Linked DNA regions of Homo sapiens. The protein of the gene in region 1 interacts with the protein of each later gene in a pairwise test. Each region holds a gene or a part of one and is shown on either strand. Other genes may lie near its edges.

Region 1 (5,508 bases):
GGAGATAATTATACCTGCTTTTCAGGATTGCTGTGATTGAATGAGAAAACCTGTAAAGACCCTTAAAGTGTAGGACACTCAGAAGGTGCTTAGGGGAAAAGATGGATTATTTTATCATTGTTGTTGTTACTATTATTATTAATAATTATTAGGAGAGTGTCTTAGTTTGGGCTGCTACAACAAATTCCATAGACTGGGTGGCTTAGACAACTGAAATTTATTTCTCACAGTTCTGGAGGGTGTGAAGTCCAAGATCAGGGCAGCAGTACACTTTGTGTCTGTCGAGGGCCCACTTCCTGGTTTGTAGATGTCCATCTTCTCCTGATATCCTCACATGGTGGAAAGTAAAGGGAGAGAAAACAAGCTTTCTAATATCTTTTTATAAGGGCATTAATCCCATTCAAGAGGGCTCTGCCCTTGGGACCAAATTACCTCCCAAAGGCCCCACCTCTTAATACCATCATATTGGGTGTTAGGAGTTCAACACAGGAATTTGGGGAGACACAAACATTTAGTCCGTAGCAGAAAGTTTTCTTGAGGTTTGTTTTTAGAAAGCAAAACTAAATTTCATTATTCACTCTTCAAATATTTTACTGTTACTTTGAGGCTTTGTAATAATTAGATCTATAGTAGACTCATAGATCTTTTCTTAAAGGATAGAAAAAGAAAACCTTCAAAGATAGACAGTATGTTATATTATATGGAAGCATTAGAGTTCTCCATCAAACTTGCTCCAACACCTTGGGAGAAGTTGAAGTTTCTGGCTGGAAATAGTTCTAGCAGATGGGTTGCATCTCCTTGTTGCTGCTCTTTGCTTAGTTTGCAGTGTTTCAAAAGATAATATATATTGTCATATAAAATAATTCCTAAAATAATGTATATACTAAGGGTCACAATTCAATTTGGTTAGAGATGGGAGTTTAAGGAGTGATTATTCATTTTTAAAATTTCCTCTCGGTTATTGTATTGCTATGGCTGACAAAAGGAAGGGAACACAGTGGAAGGAAGGGAACAGAATTTAGGCCCCAGGAGGCGGAAGGTCCAAAACCTAGACCCCAGAACCATGAAGAAAAGCCAAAACTGTTAAGTCTCTAAGAACAGTTTTCTATATTCAAACACTAACAGGAATTTTTAATGAAAATACAGCAATATCTGAATAAAATGCAGATATGTAAGTCTAGGAAAACAACTATAAAATTTATCCATTTCTTTGTAAGTTAGATTTCTTAACTGATTTCTCGAAATTTAACTCTTAAGTACAAGAGGTTGGATAAAACAGGAAAAATTGATCTATGTGCAGAAAAAGAAATTTAATTAAAATTTATGTTTTAATTTCCTCAACATTTTCCAGTTTGATTCAGATGATGGTACCAGGAAAATCAAACAATTGCAAGACCATTTTTGTAATTTCTTAACATACTAAAGAATTTGCCAAGATGTTGAAAGGAACTTTAAGAAAATACAAGTTAAGCATGTTAAGAACATTATGTATAGTATGATCCCATTTTTATTAAAATAACAAAAACAGAAGGTAGGAAAATGCGTGGTATAGAAATGAAAAGAGTGGCCAGGAGCGGTGGCTCACACCTGTAATCCTAGCACAGGCTGAGGCGGGTGGATCACTTGAGGTCAGGAGTTCGAGACCAGCTTAGCCAACATGGTGAAAGGCATCTCTACTAAAAATACAAACATTAACCAGGTTTGGTGGCACACACCTGTAATCCCAGCTACTCAGGAGGCTGAGGCAGGAGAATCGCTTGAACCCAGGAGGTGGAGGTTGCAGCAAGCCGAGATTGCACCACTGTATTCCAGCCTAGGCGACAGCAAGACTTCATCTTAAAAAAAAGAAATGAAAAAGTCTTAAATACTGTATGTGAAATTGGGGAAGAGGACTGAGAATTTCTACTTTCTGCATCTTAGTATTGCTTGAATTGCTTTTTATGTGTTTGTTTTACAATGAACACATATTGCTTTTTTTTAGAGGTATTTATTTTCTTCCAGTCAATTGGATCACTCATAAATTACTGCAGATAGGAATTTTTCTTGCTTGTTCTTTAAAAATAGATTTAATGCAGTTTTATAAATTTCTTTATTTCAGTGTTTCATAACTGTTTCTTTGATGATGCTTTTTTTTGATGATGCTTTTTAAACCCAGTTTTTTAGTAGAAAGCTTGCCATCATACACATGAATATGCATGTTTAATAATAATAGCTGCTCTTTATTTAAGCAATCACTATGTGCCAGACCATATTCTAAGCATTTGATATATATTAACCCATTTAACCGTTATAACAACACTCTGAGTAGTCCAGTTTACAAATGAAGAAATGAAGCATAGGAAGTTTAAGAAACTTTCCTCACGTACAGCCTGTATGCATATCGAATTCATATAAGAATGCTCCCTGCACTTGAATAACACTGTTATGTTCCTTCTCAATCTTCTCTTCTCAATGCAAAATGATCCCAGTTTCCATTTCTATTCTTTTGCTTAGGAATTATCAACATGAAGTTTATATGTTGGGGGGATACGTGGATGCATATTTCCTAATTTGTTCCCATAAAGGGCTTACAATCTAGTTAGAGAAATAGGACACGTAAATTTAACATCGATAAAGACATGGAGTGTTCTGTAATAGTACATGCCTAGGCTCTGATGAATAATGTGCATGGCAGGGCTGCCAAGATCAGGATAGATTTACTTTGTAGGAAAACAAGGTTCCCCGCGGATGATGAGTAGGCTCTGTTTAACACAGTGACCAGCAGACTTGCTCTGAAACCCAGCTCTCAATCCAATTTCACCAAGAAACATTAGAAGGCTATTTCTATGTACCCACTTTTCAAATATGACCCGATATTAACATTTTAATGGATACAAGTCTCGCTCTGTTGCCCAGGTTAGAGGGCAGTGGTGCAGCCAGGCGCGGTGGCTCACACCTGTAATCCCAGCACTTTGGGAGGCCGAGGTGGGCAGATCACTTGAGGTCAGGAGTTCGAGAACAGCCTGACCAACATGAAGAAACCCCGTCTCTACTAAAAATACAAAATTAGCTGGGCGTGTTGGCGCGTGCCTGTAATCCCGGCTATTTGGGAGGCTGAGGCAGGAGAATCACTTGAACCTAGGAGGCAGAGGTTGCAGTGAGCCAAGATTGTGCCGTTGCACTCCAGCCTGGGCAACAAGAGTGAAACTCCATCTCAAAAAAATAAAAAATAAAAAAGATTGCAGTGGTGCGATCTCGGCTCGCTGCAACCTCTGCCTCTTGGGCTCAAGCAATTCTCGTGCCTCAGCCTTTCGAGTAGCTGTGGTTACAGGTGCCTGCCACCATGTCCGGCTAATTTTTGTATTTTTAGTGGAGACAGGGTTTCACCATGTTGGCCAGGCTAGTTTCAAATTCCTGACCTCAGGTGATCCTCCTGCCTCGGCCTCCAAAGGGCTGGGATTACAGGCATGAGCCACCATGCCCAGTCTATTTTTTTTTTAAGACAGAGTCTCGCTGTCACCCAGGCTGGAGTGCAGTGGCACAATTTCAGCTCACTGCAACCTCTGCCTCCTGGGTTCAAGTGATTCTTGCACCTCACCCTCCTGAGTAGCTGTGATTACAAGCATGTGCTACCACCCCTGGCTAATTTTTGTATTTTTAGTAGAGCTGGGGTTTCACCATGTTGGCCAGGGTAGTCTTAAACTCCTGGCCTCAAGCGATCCACCTACCTTGGCCTCCCAAAGTGCTGGGATTACAGTCATGAGCCACTGCACCCATTGGCTTCTTTCTTTTTTGATAGAAAAATGCCAGAGATTTCAGAGTATTCATTATTAGTCCATGATTATTTTTGTTTTCAATGAAGAAAAAAGAAAAGAAAAAAAATCATAACTTTTTTTCCCCCGGCTGGCCTTAAGGATTTTAAAAGTTTGCTCCCATATGTATTATGGAAAGCAAGGAAAAATATAGTGTGGAAGCTAAGCTAAATAAAGGTCAGTGAGTAAACTTTCGATATGAGCAGAGCTTTTTAGAGCAGGGATTAGCAAACTTTTTCTGTATGTGGTGAGAGTAAAATCGAGGCTCCGTGGGCCACATACGGTCTCTGCTGCAGCAATTCAACACTGCTGTTGTAGTATGAAAGCAGCCATAGATGATGTAGAAAGGAACATGCATGGCTTTGTTCCAGTAAAACTTTATTTACAAAAGCAGTCAGCAGGCCATAGTTTGCCAGCCTCCTCTGGAAAGAACAGTTAGAGAGAAAGGTAGTGCCTTGAATGCCAGTCTAAGAAACGTATATTTTATTTCCTCAATGACAGAGGATTTTAAAAAATCACTTTTATCACCCTGGAGAACCCAGTTTATGTGTGTAATATGCCCTCTTTTGTCATCAGATTTCATCTAACTTACTATTAAAAGTTGCCAAGAAAGCTAAGCTGTGGCCTCAAGCAGATGGCTGAAAAAATAACGCAGTAAGATTTGCTTTCCAATGCCTTAAGAGTTTGCATTTGTGTACTTTGAGTCAGTTGGGCTAAGAGGGAAATAGCAGTTTGTTCTTCGTACTCTGATAGATGGGATGATGGGCTCCATGGGTAAGGGAGGTTAGGACAAGCCACTGAATACAGTTGGGGGAAATGTCTGCAAGTCCATATTATTTTTTGTCTGATTTGCAAGACCTGTTTCTTGTAGATTTGATCATAACCCTGAGAAATATTGGCAGACTAGTCTGTCAGGGAGTAATATTCTACCCAAACTCACACAGGAACATTTTGAATGCTGCTGAGAGTCCAAAGTCAATAGGGTTGCCAGGATGAGCAAATAAAAATCTAGTTAAATCCAGGACACCCAGTTAAATTGGAATTTGCTCAACAAAAAAAGTAAGTATAATTATATCCCATTCACTATTTGGGACATTCATAAACTAAAAAATTATTTGTTGTTTATCTGAAATTCAAACTTAGCTGGGAATCCTGTATTATACCTGGCAATCCTAAAAATGAAGATAAATGAATAGTTTCTTGCACTACATAAATTACATCATTATGTCACTTGATTAGTACCCTTCACCAATGATTTTTTTTTTAATTGTGGGAGTCTAATGACAGTTGAATCTCATTACTTCCAACCTCACTGTTTTAGAATTTTGATTATTTATGCAAGAGCTATGCTAAAGTGCACTTTATTCTCTTCATGAATTTAGGAAGCCTATTTGTCATTGATAGTACAAATAAAACTGAAAGAAAACTATTTATCTCCTTGGGATACTACAAATAGTATAATTACCTTTTAACCAGAAGCTATCATTATTTAGAATCTGCTTTTCATTTAATAATTATAGATCATTCACAGTTGTTCATTGAAATAAGTCAAGACTTTACCAGACAGAGTCAGGTGCAGCCACCTAAGTCCTGATGGCCCGCTTTGCGTCCCATCTGCTCCAGTTCACAGTGTGTCTTGCCAGTCTCTCCTATACCATTGTGTTTGTTTTGTTCCTTATCCGCTCTAGAGCCTCACACAATGCTTGCTACTGAGAAG
Region 2 (4,504 bases), on another chromosome or scaffold:
GGAGCCAGGGCCCAGACAGGGTTAGTCACACCCTCACCTCAGGCCGCAGGGACAGGCCTCTGGGACTTCCAAGACATGTACCACCTGTCCTGCCCCCAACCCCTGCCAGCCTTCAGCAGGAGGGTTCATGCTGAGCATCAGGAGGGGGCAGAAGAATTGAACGTGGCCACTGTCCATGAAGAAGTTAGAGAAGAGTACACACAACACACATGCACACAAGAATAGGACACGTGCACACACACACACACATGCATACAAGATTAGGAAACACAAGTGCACACACAACCAGTCAGAAATGAGCTCTGAGCTTTTACACATATTAACTCATTTCATCCTCAAACAGTCTTTAGAGAGGTATAATTAGTGTTCCCGTTTTAAAGGTGAGGGAACTAAGGCACAGAGGAGCTATGTAACTCACCCAAAGGCACCCAGCTACTGGCATGTGAGGCCATGATTTCTCCCCAGCAGCCCCACCCACAGCCCGTGCCTTTAACCACCTGCCTGACCCCTCCCAGCCAAGTGGCTCCGTCCCTACATCAGAAAGGTCAAGGAAGAGGCCGCCTAGGGAGCAGTACAAGGCAGCATTACAACCTGGCATTTTCCTGTTGCAGACTGCATTTTGGTGGCAAGAGAAGCTTTGGAGGTGCTTAACGTTTAGTTTGCATTTATCCTACCGCTGAAAAGCAGGGACCCTTAGGACCATAAGTCTAGGACTTTTCATAGCACCCTAGACTGCTGGGGATGAAAGGGGCTTGGAGCTGAGCTGGTGCAGCAGCTCCTGTTAGAGAAGCCACCCAGAGAGGCCCAGGGACCTCCTATGTCCCAGCGCCAGTTAGGGGCAGACGTGGGACCAGCTCCCCTCGGCTGCAGCGGCCTCCATATCAGCTCCCTGGAAGGGAGCAGATGCCAAGTCAGGTTCTGAGCAACACCCTCAAGGCCCAGCCCTGGCAATCCCTTCCCACCTGTGATTAGGTCTGGGGTTCAACAAAAATAGGACTCAAAATCTGGATCTTCTCGCCTTGCTTCACTTTGGGCTGGTTCAGTTTTGTTTCGAGGTAAATCATTCGAGGTTTTTCAGGGATCCTCAGATGCATGTCTGCGTGAAGCCGTCCTGGCTTCCCCTTCGGCTGCCCCCTGGGCAAGAGCCTGGGCCATACCTGTGCCATTCCTGAGCTCTGTCTCTAGCTGCCCTATGTCCAGTCATTGGCGATGGGTCTTATTCAAGCCCCCTTTCCCCCAACCCACACTAGATTGTAAGCCCTCAGGGTGGGGACCGCTTCTCACTCATCCTTATATGCTTAGGAGTGTTCAGCACAAAGTCACTCAGGAGATGGCAGGCAGCGGGGAGAGGGCAGAGACAGAGGAGAGGCTTCTGTCCAGAGGGTTCCTACTTAGGATCATCCAAATCATCAGCAAATGTTGGAAAGATGGTCTGGGGGCCTCAGGCTGGCTACTCTTCCTCCCCATCAGGGCAAAACTCCCCGGGGGCTTGTGTCTCCCTGTGGTTGGGGACAGGCCTGGGTGTATCTGTCCCAGCCTTGACTGACCACAAGGGGAGACTTGGCCCTCCCGACCACAGGAGAAGAGGGATTTGAATTCACCTCGGCCCAAATTGCAGATGCTGGCCTGCGAGCCCTGAGGCCATCTGCAAGGCTCCTGGGCTGACATAACTGTCACCCAGCTCTTCATCCTCCTTCCCCGGGGCTGAAGGGGTGCCTGCAGGGTCTTCTGCCCTCCCTCCACCTGGGCCCTACTGCTGGCACGGAGCTTCATTTCTGTTGGCAGCCAGTGTTTGCTTAGTGATTACTGAATGCCGTTTGCTGGGTGCTTATGATGTGCTCAGCACTGTTCTAAGTGCTTTACACAATTGACTTATTTACTCCTACAACCTGCCCATAAGGGAAGTGCTGCCATGGTCTCCCTTTTATAGCTGAGAAAACTGAGGCACAGATAGGTCCATGGTCACACAGTTAACATAAGGCAGAGTCAGGACCAGAATCCAGGCGGACTGGCTCCAGAGCCCGGCTCCTGGACCGAGCAGCCTTGAGTAGGGACCTGGTGCAGACCCGCCTGCCGTGGACTCACTATAGGATGGGTCAGGAGGCCCGTTGTCACCTACAAAATGTAGCCCACCACCCAGGAAACGCTCCCAGAACCAGGCAGAAAATACTGTCTCCTATTCACAGGGTGGCTGTGCCTGGCGTGAGTGTCTTGGCGGGTGCCTGCATGTCTGTGCAGGAGTGCCACCCCCATCTGTGGACTCGGAAAGCATGATCCCCACAAAAGCAACCCCTCAGAGTCTCAGCTCAGCCAATCCCTGTTATCCTGTGACAGGCAGGGCCATGTTTCAAAACCATGTTAAAGATGAGCAAGAGGCTAAGGAAGTTTCCCATGCTGGCAGAGGCAGGACAGGAACACATGTCCCCTGACTCTTGACATTGAGAATGCACCCCCTTCCACCCACCTGGCCTCTTGTCCCAGCCAGTGTGGTCCCAGCTATGCAGCTCTCTGGGACATCTCTGGAAAGCTCATTGTTCTCTGTCTGGGCAGTAAGACGGAGTGAGGCTCTGACTGCCGAGGCAGACAGACCTGCCTCCTGCTCTTCCTCCCCTCAATTATTTGTGCTGCCTGAAACAAGTTCCTGAGCCTCCCTGAGCCTCAGTTCCCTCCTCTGTAAAGTGGGAATGATAACTGAATCTACTTCCTGGGGTTCTTGTGAGGACCAGAGGCCCATCACCCGAGGAAAGGCCTGACAGCAGCAATGGGTGTATGGTAGGCATCCATTAATAGGAACTGCTGCTGCTGCTGCTGCCTTATAAAAGGAAAAATCACAGTTTCAAAAACCTCTTAAGATTGCATGATTTGTCATCTGAGAGCAGAGATTGTGATCTCCATTGACAAAGATGGAAGCTGGGGCCCAGGGAGGCACACAGACTTGTCTGAAGACACACAGCTGCTTCATAGCAGAGCCGGGCCCAGCCTCCTGGTTCCCCTGCCCCATCTTTATGTCAGTCCCTGGATCCACTCCCTCACCTGGTCAGGTGTCCAGAGGTTCCAGGAGAGTGTTGTGGAAAAGTAGGAAGAGGCAGACGCCCATGGAGGGTGTTGAAAGCCACCCCAGCTGCTCTGCTGCTTCAGGGCAGGGGATCTTAAGCCCTGTGGAACTGTAGGCTGGTGAAGCTTGTGGACTTCTGCTCAGAATAATGTTCTTACATGCACCAGACAAAATAGCTTAGGGTTACAAATGAAATATATTATATGGAAACACAGCGAAAATATTTTTTAAAAAAGACTACAGTAGCATTAGGCATGCTTCTTTATTAGCACATTAAATGACAAGCTCTAGTGGCAGATCTAATGTCTACCATAATTTTATTTTTACTTTTATTATTATTATTATTATTATTATTATTATTATTATTATTATTTTGAGATAGTCTTGCTCTGTCACCCAAACTGGAGTTCAGTGGTGCGATCACTTCAGTCTTCAACTCCTGGGCTCAAGCGATCCTCCTGCCTCAATGTCCTGAGTAGCTGGGACGACAGGCGTGTGCCACTGTGCCTGGCTAATTTTTTTTTTATTTTTTTAGAGATGGGACCTCCCTGTGTGGCCCAGGCTGGTCTTGAACTCCTGACCTCAAGCGATTCTCCTGCCTTGACCTCCTGAAGTGCTAAGATTACAGGTGTGAGCCACTGCACCTGGCTAGCATGGTTTTAAATTTGTGCTCAATTTAAATGGTATTAGGATAAATTATTTACAGGTAAATTTATGATATGATCTTGGTCAGTATTAATGAAAAATTATGTTGCCTACCTTCATACTTAAAGGAAATAGCAAATTTTAGTTAGAAGTTGGTGACAATTAATATATAATAATTTTTCCATCCAAGTTTACTGTAGACCGATGGCCCGAGTTCAGGGTTTCCTCCACATCCACTCATATCTTGGGCTCAGCAAAGAAGATCACAGGGCACCCACTCTATCTTAGGGGCCCATTCACTTGTCTCTCAGTCCTGCCCTCAGAGATCAAGGTTTGGTGTTCATTCATTCATTCATTCAGCAAACACTGAGCACTGCCTCCGTGCCAGGCTATGATACACAGTGAGGTCCAAGGTCAGATGAGATGAGGTCCTGCCCTCAAGCTGTTCACCATGCTTCAGGGAGAGCATAAGAAGAACTGCTCCAAGATGCAAAATGTAGACAAGCATAGGGACATGCTCACCCTTCCTGGTCATCAAACACCCAGCGATGGTGAGGTTGGGGTTAGATGGTCACTCCTGGCTAGTGACACTGTCCATTGCCTAATCCTTTTGAAAAGAAGTATGGCACTGCATCACATTGGTCATGGAAATTCCAGAGTTCCCTTTCCCAGCACTCTCACTCTGCCAGTTTTTCCCGAGGAAATCATTCAGCAGGAGGGACAAAGGGTGGAGGGCAGAAGTCATCCCTGCTCTTCCTGAGTCTGTGCTCTCCCCAGGGAAGGGGCTGTGTTGTGTTCAGCTTG

What was found.
Region 2: the proteins of SETD7 (region 1) and STEAP3 interact in a two-hybrid assay, tested with the Homo sapiens proteins (one large-scale study listed by BioGRID and IntAct).

The regions. Positions count from the first base shown.
Region 1 is NC_000004.12:139,534,680-139,540,187, reverse strand, and holds part of SETD7 (histone-lysine N-methyltransferase SETD7), read left to right. Parts: intron 1-5,508. UniProt on the Homo sapiens protein: Histone methyltransferase that specifically monomethylates 'Lys-4' of histone H3. H3 'Lys-4' methylation represents a specific tag for epigenetic transcriptional activation.
Region 2 is NC_000002.12:119,240,834-119,245,337, forward strand, and holds part of STEAP3 (metalloreductase STEAP3), read left to right. Parts: intron 1-3,588; exon of another isoform or gene 3,589-4,504.